Regions from separate parts of the Homo sapiens genome. Here region 2 is linked to region 1. The links come from fine-mapping of genetic effects on gene expression. A gene starts in region 1. The other region holds a variant in brackets. All regions are shown on one strand. Distances are between the middles of the regions.

Region 1 (9,273 bases):
CTCTCCAGCCCATGTGACTCCCTCAGGCTCTGCTGGGACGCGTTCAGACCTAGCTCTGCCACAATCCTGCTGCTCTTTCAGCAGATCTGTTCATGGCCACCACCAAGCCTGAGGACTGGGCAGAGCATGGGAGCATCCTGTGGGGACAGGATGGGCGTGAGGGGGCAGGGTGGTGGGTTAGAGTGGGCAAGGGTTGACGGGTTCAGGTGGGGTTCAGAGTCAAAGGCTCTCGCCAGCAACTACTACATTAAGTGTGCGTGTGTGTGTGTGTATGAGAGAAAGACATGGGTGTATGTCATTGTATAGGGGTGCTCCCCCATGCTGGATCTGTGTGAGTGAAGGACAGGGACTAGAACAGTGGTTCTCCAACTTGGCTACACATGAGAATCACCTGGGAGTTTCTGAAGTCCTGATGCCCGTGCCATCTTTCATACTCACTAAGTCAGAATCTCTGGGGGTGGGACTCACGCATTTGTGTTGTTTGAAATTTCCAGGTGATTCCAATATGTAGCCAAGTTTGAGAAGAGTGGATGAGAAGACTTTTTAATATGTTAGGATGTTTACGAGAGAGACACGATGAGTGGCATGCCTTAAGGGGAAGAGCTTTTTGGCAGAACAGCTGCTGGCGGTCTGGGCAAATGGTTTGCAGAGCTAGAGAGTTATAAAATCTATTTCCAAAGAGTGTTCCCATTGCAAAGCACTTTGGAGATGATCTAATCCAACCTCTGACAGCTGCAGAGACCCAAAGAGAGGCAGCGACTTGTCCAAGATCGCACACCAGGTAGATGCCAGGCTGGGCTCCTGACACAGCACAGCTGCAAGGACACACATGTACACACACATAACATAAGTGTGTGCATGTTATGTGTGTGTACGTGTGTGCATGTGTGGGTGTGTGGATTCATGTGTGGGGTGTATTGTGTATACATGCATATATGCATGTGTGACCTATGTGTGTATACATGTGTGCGCATGTGTCCAGCGTATGCCTAGAAGGAACTTCACATGAAGATATCTAACATTCGTCCATTTTATTTTGTTCAAACATTACACATCTTGTAAGGGTCACGGCCCATCGCAGAAGCGCTTCCCAGATTTCTAAACCTAGAACAATTGGCACAATGATACTTACAATGGTATGGGGTCGGGGGAGGAATTTGTACTTTTAAAAAATCTCTGTCAAGGAGCAGGATCCAGAGAAGCAGCATTTGCTGCAAAACACCCTAGAATACCCAGCATTTTTGCATGTGTTGTAACAGGCCAACGGAAATTCTGGCTAAAACTCCAACTTCAAGCCAAGGTACATTGTAAAGAAACAAGAATTGGTTCATTTGAAGTTTAATTGGTATGTTTCGCCAATGGAACAAGCTAAAGCACACATAGCCATTACCATCTGCAATCTCAGCTTCGGTCCCAAGAAAACAACCCCAGAAGTGATGCCTGTGGTCAGGAAAGGACAACTTTCTAGAAACTCTAATGAGCAGAACACTCGGGCAGAAGCTCATGCTGAGACATAGTCAAACACAAATACAAAAAGCCATCAAAGTGGGGGCTCCTGAGGCGAGCTCCTTCACTGTGCAGGCTGCGGAGTTCGTACAAGCATGCCCCCCTCTCCCCTGATGAGGGCTGAATAGACACAGGAACTACAGAAAGGGAGCAGGCACCTCCCCTGGCTCAATGTTGCCTCCAGCCCCTACCTCTGATCAGAGAGAAATAGAGGCTTAGCAATTTTAGATGGGAAACAGTACTTCTATGAAGAAGGGAGAAAGAGAATTTCAGGCCAAAGGCTGAAATAAAAAATCACAGATGGCTAAGCAGGCAGTGAGACAAAGCAGGCAATGGTGCTGGTGTTGTTAGGACTTCCCTGGAAGGAGACAGGACAGGTGAAAGGAAGCTCCTTTCACTGAGCTGGGTGTGATCTGTATTCACAGTGGCGGGGGAGCGCTTGGGTTAGGGCAAGTGAGATTCAGGTTCAGCTTTAGGAAGAGATTCCAAGTGAAGTTATAAAGATCTGGAAGGTGGATAAGTGTTTCCTTCCCCATCCTCAGGGAGGTCATTTCCCTGGCAAAGATCTTTTGCTGGGTGGTGACATCCCCCTCAGTTTCCCCTTGCCTTCCACACAGTCTGGGAAGAAAAGGAGGCCAGACACCCTGAGGCACACAGGGACAGCCTGAAAACACAGGGGAGCAATACTTCAGGGGCAGTTCAAGATGGGTAGGCAGGTTCAGAGCAACCTCCTTCTGCAAGGTCTCCAGGCCACAGAAGCCACCTTCTTCCTGCCCGGGGCCTTCATGACCAGGGCAAGGTGCTTGTCTGATCTGTGGCATTTCAGGGAGAGCATGAGTGCAGACAGGCATTTTGTGACAGGCTCCAGGGGCCCTTCCTCCAGTCCTCAGTGGCTCAATACTCCCTCAGTGACAAGAGAGAAAAGAGCACTAGTGGAGAGGAACTGAGAAGCCACTTCTATCACAGGACCAAGGATGGCTGGTCCTGACTGTCCTTCCTGGGGTACAAGGAGCAGTGGCTACTCTTCCAGGCAACCTGTGGGGTATGGTTGGCCCTTCTTAACTAGGGAAACTTTGGATGGGATTCAAGGGGCTCAAGAAGACCCTAGGTAAACTGACTCTGCTCTTGGAAGAGACTAAACAAGAACCTGAATCTGTCCAGGGGGCGAGGGAAAACGCCTGGGGCATGGTCCTTCCACAGCTACCAGCTCATTCCATTCCAGGAACCAAAGCAGGCTCCTGACAGGTAAACCAGCATAAGAAAGAGGGAGCAGAGTGAGTAGAGGTGGCCGCAGAGCAAATAGGGGACGTTTGGGTGTTTCTGATGGAGAAGACAAGGAAATCTGATGAAAACTAAGCCAGATAAACCAGAAACACCAGCTCCAAGTGACCAAACCGCCTCTTCCAGCAAGGATGCCTCTGCAGCCTCCTTTAGGAACCTCCGCAGAGTCTGAGGGTAGAGGGGACACGCCCACAGGGCTAGACCTTGGAGTTTCTGGAGAGGTAGCCATCAGCATCAACCCTCCCCCAGTGAAGCCCCCTGGGGGACCTTGGGAGGAAAAACAAAGAGGGAACAAAGGAGACCTTATCAGATAGAAGTTCCCCACAAAGACCAAGCCCAGAAAGTGCACTTCTTGCTGACAGACACTCAGCCAATATCCCGATAGGTAGGAGGAAAAAGGGGTCCTTGGGGCACCCAGGGCCGGTTTGAGTTTTCTGGAGTTGTGAGCCAAGAGCTCAGGCTGGGATGGAGTGGGAGTGGGAAGGGGACAGCCAAGTCTTGTGCAGAGAGGAGAGTAGGTTGAGCTGTGCTCTGGGCTGTAGCCAGAAATGGGGGCACTTTGTTATTCCAAACCTAATTCTAAAGAGGCTAGGAGGCACCTACCAAGGCACCAAATAAAAGGGAAGGAGGCAAGTGCTCTGGAGGTGGCATGATCTTGAGTGGAAATGTGACGAGAGGAGCCTGGAGCCCACACAAAGGCAAAGAGCACACAGAGAAGCAAAGGCCTTTAGGTCTGGGGCCCAGGAAGTCCTCTGCCGGCCATTTTCCTTCCCTCGGCTCTACAAGGGGCCACTCAGGAATGGGGGCTAGGGAGTAGGTGGGGGGACAGAAGCCACAGGTAGAAGGAAGTGTGAGGTGTGTGTGTGTGTGTGTGTGTGTGTGTGTGTGTGTGTGTGTGTGGTGGAAGGGCCAGGGTCGGTTTCTTTTGTCTCCTTCCACCTTATTACCCCCTGCCCCTCACTCTCTCCTAAGGCCTGTCTTAATACATAAGTCTTGGTTGACCTGTACTGTTTGGTAATGGGTAAAGTCTTATTAGCATTTTACTAAACTTAGCTAAATAAAATAAGTAAATAAATAAACAAGTGGAATCTTTGCTCACTTGTGTGTAATTCTTACCAGGCATCCTTTGTATCAAAGTGTTTACTTGGTCTATAAGCTCTCCCCTGTCAGGTACTGCCCCTTCCTCCTTGAGTTTCCTGGGTGCTGCCCCTTTCTCCCAGGTTCCCCCAGTCATGGGATCTGGCCTCTCAGAGGCTGGAGGAGGGGGTGCCAGGCCCGGGATCCAGCTTGGAAAAGTGCCCGTGAGGGTTCAGCTGGAGGTCTCCCTGGGGCCCGGGGGGATTTCCAACCTGCCATTCCGTACTCTCCCCATGAGACACTTGTTTCTACCTAAGCTGGGTGGGGTAAGAAGAATCCAGTGGGAAAGAGGATTTCTGCATTGGCTATTCGGGAAAGAAAGCATCCCTGACCCCCTTCCCTGTCGTCAAGGGACCCACTGGCCCTGGGGCGGCCTTCCAACTAGGCTAGCCTCTTTCAGGAGGCTCTCGATAAAGTGCCCTGGAGTTCCAGGCCCTCGTCCCTGCTCCCTGTGCCACTTTCCCGTCCCGCAGCGCCTCTCCTGAGCTGCACTCCTGTCTCAGCGACTCCCTCACCCCGCTCGCGGATACTCATGCGCGGCCCCACAGGGACTGGGGTTCCCCTTGGCCTGGACGCTGGGCATCGGCCTCCAGCTGAAGGCCAGGAGATCAAGCCCAGGAAGGGTGAAGGGTGGCCCACAACCGTTTGCGAGCGCGGGGACCATGGGCCCCAGGACAGCCGGGGCCAGACAGGATGCAGGGCAGATCCCTAGAGCAGCATCCGAAAGAGAAAGCCGTCCAGACCCAGGGCTCAGGGACAGGAGAACCGCTCGCGGGGGATCCTCAACCTCCTGGCACGCTGGGACATGCTCCTGGCTGTGTCCCGGTGAATCACCCATCCTTGCCCACTAGCGCGCCATCGAGCTCGCGGGGCCGTCGAGCCAGCCTCGGGTCGCGTTTACACCAGCTCAGAACCGGCTGGGAGCTCGGCTGCTCGCACTAGGTGCGTAGACCCTGCCTGGGGCCGGCAGCCCCTCGCCTCCCCTCATCCCCGGGGATGCGTGCGTCTCTTGGTCCCCGCCACTGGGCCAGGGTGCTCTGGAAAGGGGCGCACGGACCACGCGGGGGCCGAGCCTTTACCTCGATTGGAGTGGCTCAGGGTGGACGACTGGGAAGACTTGGACTTCTGCCGCTTGACGGTCATCATCACCTGCTCCTGCACGCGCTGCCTGCCAGACGTGCCTGTTTTCATCTTTTGGTCCGACGGCAAAGCCAACGTGGAGTTGTCCTGGTCCTGGAAGCATTCGTACGCCAAGGCGGTCTTGAGCGGCGAGTGGTTCATGGTGGCGGGAGGCGGGTGGCGCGCGGCCGGGGCCTAGGAGAGCAGAGAGGCGAGGCGAGGTGCGGTGCAGCGGGCGGGCAGGAGCGTGCTCTTCTCGCTCTCAGCGGCTCCCTACGGCCATAGAGTGCGTGGTCCGCGTGAGGGCTCCCTGCAGCTGCTCCTGGCGCTTCCACCCTGGTTCGTCCCTCTCTGGCACTGGCGAGGCCCGCCCTCCGTCAGACAGGATATACCACCCCTGCCCTGCACCACCCACTCCACCGGGCCGCGCGCTGCTGCTGCTCAGACGCGGAGCTGCAGGGCACTGCTGCTGCGGAGCCAGCGCTCTTGGGGGCAGGGCTGCGAGTCCCCTGTGTGGGACGCTGGGCGCCTTCCTGCTCGCTCTTTTTTTTCTCTCCCTTCCCTCTCCCCATGAGCAAGAAACGTCGCAAGCCTTGAGGCCCCAGGGAGACGCCCCTCTGTCCTGTTCTGCCGGCTCACTGAGAAAGCATGTGCTCAGCTCAGGAACCGAGGGAGACCTCTCTCTAGGAAAGAAAGGAGTCTTTCTTGACCAGGCTGCCCAGGAGAGCCAGGCGTCCATCTCCCTCTGTACTGAGGTCATAGCAGAGACCAACCCCGGCGGTGGAGGCTCCCGGGCTGATGGCAGAACCATAGCTCTTGCTCCAAAGGAGTGCTCCATCTTATGGGGGTAACCCAGTCTACTCTAAAGGAGCTTCCTCTGAAGAAAGTGGGGTAGGGGCAGTAAGGCCACATCAAGGAGCAGACTTGGGATATCAGACCACACAGTGGGTATGCCTTGGTAAAACCGGTGGTTATTTGTTGTTCATGAGTATACCCCGGTAAAACACCACGTGAACAGCGGATCCTCTCTGAAACTCCACTATAACCTCTAAAACAATGCCTGGCACACATAATATTAGGCGCTTAATAAAAAATATTTTAAATAGGTGAATACGTGAATGCTAGTTAATTTAAGGTAAATTAAATCTAACTCGGATCCTAACCAGATCCTCACTGAAAAATTGAAAAGCTGCTTTACCCTGAAATTTCACTCTGGACTTATTATTCTGGGACCACTGTGTGCATTCCCCTATATACACTCACCCCTGGGGACACATGTGCAGTGAAGCTTTATTCATGTAGCATCCTCTCCAGGCGTGGAGGGAGCCCACATCAGTGAATTTGGTGTGTAACAGGAGCTGAGTGTTTTTTTTTTTTTTTAAGTATTTACTTTGATGGAAATCTTTCTAAAAGGTATCGCATTCTGTTTGCCTCCTAAAGCAAACAACACTGAACATATTTGCTGTACTTCTTGATGCCCTGGGTTTCTCATTCTGGACATCCATTACTGAACTGTGTAGTCGTGCTGTCCGGTCAGTTTCTTAGTTTTGGGGCCTCCACCAGTGTGTGACACTATCACAGCCGTCACTCTTGCTGTCATTTGAGGCTGCCGCTCACAGCTCACATATTTTACTTTTAGTTTGCTCTTCTAATCTACAGAGGAAAGGACAATCAGAAATCTATTCTTTTTGGGAATTTTATGTCGAGGAAGGATCAAGAAGACTGAATGACTGTCTCAGGGACCATGTACATGAAGGTCACTCACGCAACTCCTGAGATGTGGGTGTTACATGCGGGGAGCCCCAGCTTTCCCAAGGAAGGTATTCCTAGTAGCAATTTGCAGAGCAGATTATTGTAAAGCAGATTATAGTTTCCAATAGAAACAGTTTTATTATTGAGGGCGCTGTTCCTAAGAACTTAACCTCAAGTAAACCAGAGATGTGATAAAAAATATGTCATAGATGTGTACAAAATACCTGTAAACCTCTATTATCACTTCATATTGTAAGATTCTGCCTCTAGCCATAGACCGCCAGGACTGGACAGAGCCTTGGACTTCATCCAGCCAAGCACTGCATTTCACTGATTAGGAGAGGAGGTAGCTTGCTTGCAATGCCCCAGTTAATATGTGGCAAAGCCTGCATCCTAACCAGGCCTTGTGACTCCTGGCACAGTGCTCATTCCACCACATCATCCAGCTTCCCTTATAAAAGTCCTATAAAATGGACATTAAAGTACAGTGCACACCGATTATATAAGGGCCCCAATGTACTGTAAAGTATACACAGCAGCATATAAAAATACAATTCTATTGTATCACACATTTGGCCTATCTAAAACCTAATATGCTAGCCATAATAAATGTTAATTACATCTTTAAATAACGATAATTTTCCTATTCTAGGATATAGAAGGGCCCTGAAGGAGGGGATTAGAGTAGCTCATCTTCCTATAAAAGGCAAGTCCGTGGAAGCAGAACTGATTATCTTTAAAATTGTTTCCAGGTATGAAGTTCAGTTTTTCTAGCTACTTCTCTACTATGTTAATATTGACATTATTTTGACATATTGATAGCAATAGCATTTACTATGCTCCTCCAAACACCATGCCTACCAACCAGGCATTGTTCTGAGCCCTGTACACGAACCACATCATTTAAATCCTTACAATGACCCTATGAGGTGGGCACCATCACCCTTCTTTTTCAGATGAGGTAACTGAAGTTCCATGAGGCCACCCAGCTGGCAACAGGCAGACAAGGCAACTGCAATCCAGAGCTGGACACTCAGTGGCAGTGCCAGGCTGCCGCCTCGAGATTTCTCTGTGACAAGCAGATCCTTCTCTGGATAGGTATTTTAACAGCATCCATTCCCATCACAGGGCACGAAAGTCAGGCCAGCTGGGTTCCTGATCTAGTTGTGTCACTAACTAGCTTCATGTTAGACAAGTGCCTTCCTCCGTCCCTTGCACCAATCTACAAAGAGAGCGGGTAAACTTCGTGGCTCCTAAACTCCACTCTAGCCCCAACATTCTATAATTCTGTCGATTGTGGGGATTTGTAGGGCAGGACATCTTGAATCAGGCCCTTCTGACAGAGGAGGAGAGGAAAGAGAAGTCAGGTTACACATTCTGGGCCACGGTGAGGGAGATATACTCAGGCTGGGAGGATTGGTTTGGGGCTCAGGTATATGGTTTTGAGCCAGCAGGCCAATGCTATTTCCATAATCTCTCTCTCTCTTCTGCCTGCCTGAGCCCCACCCTATGTGGGGCCTGTCTCAGAAATCAACCAGCAAGGAGGCTAACACTCCTAAAGTGAAGAAAAGATGTCAAGGAGGCACAGTCACATGATCCTGGCTCTGAAATGGCATGCTTTCAGGTGACTGTCAGAACATATATTTAGATGTTAAAATTCTAATGGATATGGGTTAATTTTGGCTTGGAAGGTGTTGGGGGTGATCAGGGGGAAGCATCCTGAAAGAAGTTAATTTTGACTTGATTCTGAAATAAGATGAGTATATTTTCATCCTCAAAGGAATGAGTATGAACGGGCTTCTAATTCTCTTTGCTGCCTCCTTAGAGCATTAAGTGTGACCCAGATTTCCCTTTCAACATTCTGGCTCCCAGACTTCACATCCTGTCATCTCTATGTTCATTAAAAAGTGAAATATGAGTTCATTTACTCAACAAGTATTGACTGAGCATCTGCTATGTGACAGACCTTGTCCCAGGTACTAAGGATACAATGGTGAGGAAGACAAAGTTCCTGCTCTTACAGAATTTACACTCTGTCACTCTCACTCTGTGCAGTGGTGTGTCTTGACTCACTGTAACCTCTGCCTCCCGGGTTCAAGCAATTCTCCTGCCTCAGCCTCCTGAGTAGCTGGGATTACAGGTGCGCACCACCATGCCAGGCTGATTTTTGTATTTTCAGTAGAGACAGGCTTTCACCATGTTGGTCAGGCTGTTCTCAAACTCTTGAACTCAAGTGATCCACCCACCTCGGCCTCCCAGAGTGATGGAATTACAGGCATGAGCCACTGTGCCTGGCCTAGAGCTTATTTTCTACAGGAGAGAAGGAGAAGGCTGGGCCAGGAGTGGGTGGGGGCTATCCCAAGGAAGGCTGAGAGGAGGTCTCTGGGGCTCCTGCTGCTTCTAAGAGTGTCTGGGCTGAATCTTCTCCCTTCTCAGTTTCCAGCCCCCCAGGTGAGGGGACCACCTCTAGCTGAGCCC
Region 2 (9,273 bases), 51 kb before region 1:
TAGAAAAATAAAAGCGAAATAAGCCCAAAGTAAGTAGAAGAAAGAAAATCATAAAGAGCAGAAACTGATGAAACGAAAAAAAAAATAGAGAAAATTAACAAAGCCAAAAGTTGGTTTTCTGAAAAAATAAACTCCTAGCTATGCTATTCAAGAAAAAGTGTTTGTGTGTGTGTGAGAGAGAGAGAAGGAGAGAGAGAGAGAACACAAATTACCAACATTGGAAATAAAACAGGGCATACACTATAGATCCTGCAGACGTTACTTTTTTTTTTTTTTTTTTTTTTTTTTTGAGACGGAGTTTTGCTCTTGTTGCCCCGGCTGGGGCAGTGGAGTGCAGTGGGGCAATCTCGGCTCGCTGCAACCTCCGCCTCCCAGGTTCAAGCGATTCTCCTGCCTCAGCCTCCTCAGCAGTTGGGACTACAGGTGTGTACCACCACGCCTGGCTAATTTTTTTTTTTTTTGGTAGAGACAGGGTTTCACCATGTTGGCCAGGCTGTTCTCGAACTCCTGACCTCAGGTGATCCACCTGCCTTGGCCTCCCAAAGTGCTGGGATTACAGGTGTGAGCCACTGTGTCCAACCCAGACATTACTTTTTGTTGTTGTTGTTTTGAGACGGAGTCTCATTCTGTTGTCAGGCTGGAGTGCAGTGGTGCGATCTTGGCTCACTGCAACCTCCACCTCCTGGGTTCAAGCGATTCCCCTGCCTCACCCTCCCGAGTAGCTGGGACTACAGGCACACACCACCATGCCCGGCTAATTTTTTGTATTTAAGTAGAGATGGGGTTTCGCCGTGTTGGCCAGGGTGGTCTCAATCTCCTGACCTCGTGATCCACCCGCCTCGGTCTCCCAAATATTACATTTTTTTAAAATCTGGCAAAATTAATCTGTCATGAAAAAAGCAGAACAGTGGTGGCCTCTTAGTGGGAAGGGGGATTGTTGACTGGGAAAATGCATGAGGGGACTTTCTGAGGTGATGACATGTTCTATATTTTGATAGAACTTTGGGTTGCACAGACGTCTGCATTTGTCAAAATCTATTGAATGGTACACTTAAGATTTGTGCATTTCACTGTATCTAAATTTTACCTAAAGGAGCAGAAAGGAAAGAGGAGGAAATAAAAGAATCGTGAATCCAGTTGTCAGCTCTGCCTTCATCCTGTGTGCTCATCAGCACTATCCCACACAGCCGGGCCCTCCCTCCATCTAGGCACACTTTCTTCCCTTGGCTTCCAGATGCCACACTCTCCTGATTGGCCTTTCACGTCACTGGCTGTTCCTCCTCATTCTCTTTGGTTGGTTGTCCACCGCCTTTGAAGCTCTTCTCTATTCTATCTATCCCCATGACGTTGGTCATCTCATCCAGTCTCATGGTGTTTTGTTTTGTTTTGTTTTTTTTATTTGGAGATGGGATCTCATTATGTTGCCCAGGCTGGTCTTGAACTCCTGGGCTCAAGCAACTTCCCGCCTTGGCCTCCCAAAATGCTAGGATCAGATGTGAACCACCATGCCTGGCCTAGTCTCATCATTCAAAAGCCCTTGGGTCTTTTTTTTTCTTTTTGAGACAAGAGTTTCGCTCTTGTTGCCCAGGCTGGAGTGCAAGGGTGCAATCTCGGCTCACTGCAATCTCCGCCTTCCGGGTTCAAGCGATTATCTTGCCTCAGCCTCTCGAGTAGCTGGGATTACAGGCATGCCCCTCCACGCCCGGCTAATTTTGTATTTTTAGTAGAGACGAGGTTTCTCCATGTTGGTCAGGCTGGTCTCGAACTTCCTACCTCAGGTGATCCACCCACCTCAGCCTCTCAAAGTGCTGGGATTAGACATAAACCACTATGCCTGGCCTAGTCTCATCGTTCAAAAGCCCTTGGATCTTTAATCAAAGATATGTGGCCCCAATTAATCTAGACTCTTTTTAGGAGGTGGGAATACTTGGCCTCAATCTCTCCCCTGCGGAGTCCTGGTCACCAAAGCTAAGGCTTCAAGAAGAGCCCTACTCATCATATAGGGATGCTGGTCCTTACCAAGCCTCTGCTCTGTGCCCACAGTGCCAGGTGCTGTCAGATCCCTCCAGCAGCCTTGTGGTTGTGTGTGTGTGTAGGGCTCTATCAGTGTGTGTGTGTGTGTGTGTGTGTGTGTGTGTGTGTGTGTGTGAACTCCCCCTGTGTTTAGAGAGTCCCATGTTTCTTCATCCTGTGTGCTCATCAGCACCATCCCACACAGCTGGGCCCTCCCTCCATCTAGGCACACTTTCTTCCCTTGTCTTCCAGATGCCACACTCTCCTGATTGGCCTTTCACGTCACTGGCTGTTCCTACTCATTCTCTTTGGTTGGTTGTATACCAGACAAGAAAATGTTTTTCTTCTTTTATTTGCCAGTTCCCCTTTCCCTCCCTTCCTTCCTTGTTCACCTAAAAGAATAAATATCCAGTTCCTTCCCTGTGCCAGAGACTGCTTGGGTCCCTGCCCTCAGGGAGTTCACAGTCCAGTGCAGAAAGTGGCTGTACCAACCACCCAGGTGCCGGGTGTTACATCAGGGCTCTGGCAGGGCCTATGGAGCATCCAAAGGTGCAGTTAGTCCAGTGAGGAAGGGGACTTGCAAGAAAGAGCAGAGGGTGGTGTTGGAGAAGGGGCCTGGCCTTGCTCCTAGTGCTGCTTTGTGACCCCTGCAAGTTACTTTCCTTCTCCAGGCCTCAGTTTCTCACCTGCAAAGTGAGGGAGTCGGGCTAGACCAGCGATTTCTCCACAGCTCCTCGGAGCCTGGGGTTCTGAGGATCCCACTCCTGGGCAGAAAGGGAGTGGGCAGGTGGAGCTCTTGCCCCAAGTCTCTTCCACCCGGGCTGCCTCTGTCTCCCCATGCCAGTGTAGCTTACCCGAAGGATTCTGTGGTTGGAAAATAGGTGGATATCGTCTGCTGAGGGGTGTTCCCTGGCCATTCCACTCCGACAGTCTGTGACCCTGATGCAGGCCAGCTCCAGACAGCAGATCCCAGATGCTGGATGGTGGGTCCAGCATGCCACCAAGCCAGCCTGTTCCCTGCCAGCCTGTCTCCCAGCCCCCAGCACCTGTGGCTACAGCCCCACACTCTGCAGTCCGCCAGTGGTCCAGCCATCAAGGAGATCTGGTTGGTTGGGGCCAAGAATAAAGGCTCTGCCCCCAGGAGTACTCAAAACCAGACAGACAAGGGGACCAGGCAGGACCAGCTCTGAGCTGGCAAAAGAAAAAGAAGTAGAGAGATTGGGCAAGAAGTGACTCCTTTCAGATTCAAGAGTGGACGGTAGATGGGCTGTCTGGAAAAGGGCTTTCTCAATTCAGAGGAGGAGGTGAGTGTAGGGTATTTTTGCCTTGACCTCTCAACTTTTGGAAGAGGACAAGAATTTTTTTCCCAGACGTTTCTTGAATTAAAAAGAAAAGATGAGGAGTATATGTCTGGGGTACAGGTGCTTATTCTGTTTTCGAACACTGGTTACAGAAGGCTCAGAGGGGCACCATGGTCACAGGTTGGAGTCATTAGAGGGCAGTTTTGGAGCCAACCTAATTGTTGGCAACTGCTGTCTAGATGGCAGCTATAGAGAAGGGAGAGGAGCACCAACCTTGGCCTCAGACCTGTTTCAAAATCCGAATCCATCACCTACTATCTGTATGACCTTGAAAAAGTTGCTCCACCTCTGAACCATAGTTTCCCTATCTGTGAAATGGGAATGATCCCACCTACTTTGCAGCATCTGGATAGAGATAGAAGGTCATTCATGCATGTCAGTGCCCACCCCCACGGGGGTCACAGAATAGGTGGTCGTTCTTGTCTGTTGTCCCCCACAGCCCTGCTATCCTCCAGGAAAACTCTGGGCCCCAGAATGCAGCCAGGTGAGCCTAAAGGGATCCAGAACAACACGCATGGGTGCAGCATGGGCCCCACTGGCCCTGGAGACCTGGTTGACATTTCCTTTCAGAGAGAGGTGTAGAAAGCAGGATTTTAATGGTCTTGTGTGCAGAGGGTGACATTTATACCCCAGAGATTTAGAACCGCTTGGTAAATGCTGAAATGCTTTTTAGAAATTTTAAAAATTAATTCAGCAGCCATAAAACTTCTTAATGGGCCAACTAGAGGGCTTAGGAATGCCAGAAGCCTGAAATCCTTTCTGTATATGGGATATCTCTGCTGATCCACCATCAGTGGGGCTTGTCAGCTTTGACACGCTTCCCAGAGAGGCTGGCATGTCACTTGGTGACATTCACACCCTGCTGAGGTGTGCAGGATGACGGGTTAGGGTGGAGGATACCAGCAGGAGTCCTTAAGGTATTTTTCACTCTGTGGCCCTGGCCTCATTACCTCCATATTCTAATCAACCAAACCACCAGCCCCAGACTAGATGATCCACACTGTAGTTTCTGGCATCTGATATTCCGTCTATCAGAACTCTTCGTTTATTGGCATGTCTGCACAGCAACCACAGCTCATAAGATGTGTAATCTTATGATGCCTCGAGGTGCTGTGAGCTTCTGATTCATTAAAGATTTGGTTATGCACAGTATCGCCTTTGTGTCAGGCCTCTCTGAACAGTTTTAACACTTTGACAGCTGGGCAGCCTCATGCGAGTTGACCAGAGCAGACTTGGGCTGGGACACAGGAGGCTTGAGTCTCAGGCTTGGTTCCGCCACAAACTTGCCACGTGACTCTGCGCAAGTCACTTTCTCTCTTTGGGTCTGTTTCCTCATCTATAAATTGAAATGTAATACTCTGGGCTCTGCCTGTCTCACTAGAATGAAGTAAAGATCAAAACAGCAAACCAACACCCTAAGGCTTTGAAAGCAAAAGGAGTTAATGTGTGGCCCCCTCAAGTAAAAAAGACTATTGTTATTATTAACGACTTCTGTTCACTCTTTTCTCCAACTGTGTTGGACAACGGAACGCACTGCATTCCAAAAATGATGCACAATGAATGCTTTATCTCTCGTGGAGAGAATCGGGTTCCAGGCCAGAATACTTCCAAAGGCAACAGGAGGAAATGGCTTCAGGGCTCAGGGTAGAGAGACCTGGAGGCAGCCTGACATGGAGTCTGGGAGACTCAGCCTCCAGCACCATGAGACCTTCTCCTTTCCACAGCTTAGGCTGCCAGCTGCTCCTGGTGCCTCCCAGTTTGGTCTTGCCCATCTGTTCCTGGACCCTTTTGCTCTCACTGGACAGTCCTCTGAAGGGGCCAGAGGGCCTGCCACCCACTTGGCCAGGGACAGTTGAATTAGTACTTCTGTAGCTTTTTGGCACTCCTACACATTAAGTGCACCCACGTCCCACGTAAAATCGAACTTCTTTACTGTTAGTTGTAATTTCCCAGTAATTA[T/A]ATCACATGTGGGAATTTTTAGGAAGTGAGACAACTAATCCGCAAATTGTTTCCAGTTGTTTATAAATAATAGATGTAACAATGGCGATGATGTAATATTGCATTTTGCATTGTAACGTAATTACACATAGATTATTATATGGCAGTGGTAGGAACATGAATAGGAATGAATGAATCTTGCAAACATATTGTTGAGATAAAATAACCAAACATAAAAATGGACTTACTGTTGACTTCCTTTATATAAAGTTCAAAAATAGGCAATATTAATCTACGGTGTTAGAAGTCAGGACAGTGGTTACCCCTGGGGAGGAGGATGGTGACCTGAAGGGGTCTGAGCAGGGTTTTGGGTGCTGGTAATGTTCTGTTTCTCGGTCTGGGTGCTATTCATTTGTGAAGCTTCATTGGGCTGCATGCATTTTCAGTTGTACATGTTTCTGCATGCATGCTATATTCCAATGAAAGCTTAGCAATCTAAACATCTGTTGATTGTAAATTTGTAACTTGATCTCACATTTTGGAGTCAATACATATTTTTCAGGTCTCAAAACATTTTTTGGATGTCCGAGGCCTCGTGTATTTAACAGTCCAGGCCACAGATAGGCCATCTTCTTCTTGTCTGTGGTACAGCTCCTTCTCTCTGACCTCTCTGGACATTACTAAACTGTGGGATGGTCCAGGAGGTCAGGGCCGTGGGCTGTAGTAGAGAGGACTTGCCAGTCACCACTCTTTCAAATTGGGAAAAGCTCACATTCAGCCCTTCCCCAAGCATCCTGACCTTCCCCATCCAGGTGGCCCTGACTGGCACTGATGGCCCACGGTGGTTATGTTCACAGCACTACTTGGAATTTACTACACATGCCTCGTTTGCTTATGTTTGTCTTGTCCCTTATGAGACTTCTGAGGCTGGGGCCCATCACATCCTTTGTTTTTGTGACCCTCCAGCACCAATACAGAACCCAGGTAGAATAGGCATTCAATAAACATCAGCTCCAGCTGGGCACAGTGGCTTATGCCTGTAATCCCAGTGCTTTGAGAGGCGAAGGCAGAAGGATCACTTGAATCCAGGAGTTCGAGACCAGCCTGGGCAACATAGTGAGACCCATAGTTGGGAGCCTTAGCTGGGAGGATTGCTTGAGCCTGGGAGGTTGAGCCCTCTTTGAGCCATGATCTCATCCCTGTACTCCAGCCTGGGCAACAGAGCAAAACCCCTGTCTCAAAAAGTAAATAAATAAAACTAAATAAACACCAACTCCTTGACCTTCATCTTTGAATTTCTCTTTCCTACAGATGCCCCACCTGGATGGGTTCAGGCTTGGGGACATTTACAAGCTGTGTGACCCTGGGGGTATTTGTTCCTTCCCTAAGTCTCGCTTTACTTATTTTAAAAATCAGGACAGCAATCCTAGTGTCATGGAGCTGCGGTGAGGCTCGATGTGCTGCTGTAGAGCAGGTGTCCATGGATAGCGCTGTCCCTGTGCCCCCGGGTGGCATTCTCAGTCCTTGCCTGGTACAGGGTAAGAGGAGATCATGGAAGGAAATGAGTAGCCCCTTCATCCCTCAACAGCACCCCAAAGAATCCACTCCTCGAAAAAGTTCAAAGAAACACTAGCAATTTATTGATTTTCTCTATTTCCAAAAAAAGCAAATACATTAGTGTATCACACAAGGAAACTGGGCCTGGCCGGCACAAGGTTCCTCTACAAACATGAAGCAAGGGGAAGGTGGGCTACAGGGAAGCTCCAAGATCCCTCACAGCAGCCCCCGGCTTCCCTTCCCTGCCCACCCCAGCCGCAGTCTTGGTCCTGCCAGCCAGTTCAGCCAGATTCCAAGGTGGACATGCAGACAGCAACACTGCCTCTTGGGTCCCCAGGAGGAGTGTGGAGTCAGGGCTGCTAGTGTGGTCCCCACTGCAGAGGTGGCTGGTGGCCAATGACTGGATTTGTCATTGGCCGCTAGCACAGGAGATCCCAGGGCAGAGTCTGTGTCCTTCCTCATTTGGCCCCAAATTGGAACTCCTTATTTTGGGCATTGGCCCTGGTAGTGTGAGGCCAATGTGGACTTAAAATCCTGAGACGTGTGTCGGCTACATGAAGCCTGGCAAGCTCCTTGTTCTCTTTCTCTAGGAAAAGCCCCTCTCAGTTTTGCCCCTCTCAAAGTGACAGGCCTGGGTCAGAGGCCCGGGTGACCTGAGCTGGCCTGAGAGGGAATGGGCAGTGTCACCAAAGTCAGCCCTGCCCTAATAGTCTGCCTCAGCCCCTGAGGTCTGGAAGGCTGCCTGGTTCCCAGGGCAGGGGCTGGGCCCATGGGGCTCTTCATTCTTTGAAGGTGGGAGGAACATGAGGCGAGGGGATGCAGGAGGCCAGGGTAGTGCTAAGGGGAAGGGGCATCCGCCTGGGCTGGTAAGGTTCACATGCAGCGGTGCATTTCCCCTCCCGCCCTGACCGGACTGCACAGCCCCCAGCCGGGGGAGCCCTAAAGCCAAGGACTTGTGTCTCCACTTTCCTCCAGAAAACATAAGCCGCATGAGGACAGGGATGTGGTCTGTGTTCTTCCCTGATGTAGTCTAAGTGCTTAGGACACTGCCCCGCACAGATTGGTATGCCATACGTATTTTTTAGGAGAAGAATTCCTCTGGGTTCTGATGACAACAAAGGAGGCCCCTGAAACCTATGCCCAGGACAGTCCAGGGATCCAGGCTCCCACGTGGGTCCCTGAGAGGGAGAGGTGAGCCAGGAGTGGGCCTCCCAGTGTGAACAGAAGCAAGGGAGGGTATGACAGACCCACAGCACCACAGCACAGCTGGCTAACAGCCGGGGACACCTCTCGGAGGACAGCGTCCTCACATGTCTGGCGTCCCCCATCTCAGTTATCATACTGAGTCCACATCAGTGTTTTCCAGCCTGAATGCTGGGGCAAGAGGTGGGTTTGGACTCGGGGGTGGTGCAGAAGAGGAAGACTTGGGAGGAGGCTGAGAAGGGGTGAGGAGGAGGAGCATCTTATATTCTTCTAGAGAAGGGCACAGACCAGGAAGTTAATTCCTCTCTAACACCAGCAATGCTAGCATGGAGGTAGAAGCTGGAAGGAGGAAGGCTTGGGAGCGCTGGGCTCTGCTCTGTCTTAGTGTACACCAAGGGATGTCCACACAGGTTTTCTCATAAGGCCCTCGGGAGCCCTCCTGCTGCTGCTGGTCTGAAGTGCACAGAGTCTGGGGGCTCGACGTGGCTGATACCCCTAATAGCCCTGTTTATCACATCCCCTGTGGGTTTCACAGAGTGGAGACAAGACAGCTGGGGTCAGGGGAAGTGGGGCATGGCCCCTGGCTGAGATGTGAGCTTGCCGGTACCGGTACCCTGATATGGCACTTTCCTTTCCTAGTCTACCCAAACTCCCCCCGTCCAAGTCTCCTGGGACCCCAAACACTCCCTCAATTGACTCACAGCAGGCTTGGTGGAAACATCTTCCTGGTTAATTTCTATACCCCAACTCCATCCCACTAGAAGCCGGAATAGGTATATGCCCAGCCCCACTTGTTCCCCTCTCCACTGGGAATATGAAGACCAGCCATTCCCAGAACAGCTCTTGGGAAAGAGCTGCAATAAAATAGCTTTTCTTAAAAAAATCATTTTTTACCTTCTTTCTCCTGCAACAAGTAGATTACAAGACCTCTGAATGCAGGGCCTTTGCAGGCTGAGCCTGCTCTGATGGGCACACAGCCCAAGAGGGTGGAAGGCACCATCTTTCAGCTCCTACTCCTCTGAGCAGGCCTCATTTGGCAAAGTATGCGAGAGTGTCCTGCTGTCCTCTGGAACCCCACACCTACCCAACCTCAGTCCTTGTGGCGCTGCTGGAGGGGTGACATTACAGACACCCCAGATTCTCCCATGAGATACACCAGACCTCCCTTCCTGGAAAGCAGCCTTGTAAGTGGGGAGGCTGG

Direction of the effects. Positions count from the first base shown, and alleles are read on the strand shown. Sizes are in standard deviations (SD) of each study's normalised expression.
For the expression in skeletal muscle of the gene that starts at base 5,402 in region 1, T is the low allele of the variant in region 2 and A is the other (moderate effect, 0.48 SD a copy in GTEx).

What was found.
Region 2: its variant is fine-mapped to the expression of PKP1 in skeletal muscle (GTEx, PIP above 0.99). The same link has a PIP of 0.9 or more in visceral fat.

Annotation. Positions count from the first base shown.
Region 1 is chr1:201,279,635-201,288,907 of GRCh38, reverse strand. PKP1 (plakophilin 1) reads right to left here and starts at 5,402. Exons shown (of 14, transcript NM_001005337.3): 1 at 5,004-5,402. The coding sequence starts at 5,205. RefSeq lists an enhancer at 5,032-5,561.
Region 2 is chr1:201,330,646-201,339,918 of GRCh38, reverse strand. It overlaps PKP1 (plakophilin 1), which reads right to left. Exons shown (of 14, transcript NM_001005337.3): 14 at 6,930-9,273. Among named protein-coding and RNA genes, the nearest start is that of TNNT2, 42 kb to the left of the region's middle. The variant T/A (reference allele first, on the strand shown) is at 5,334.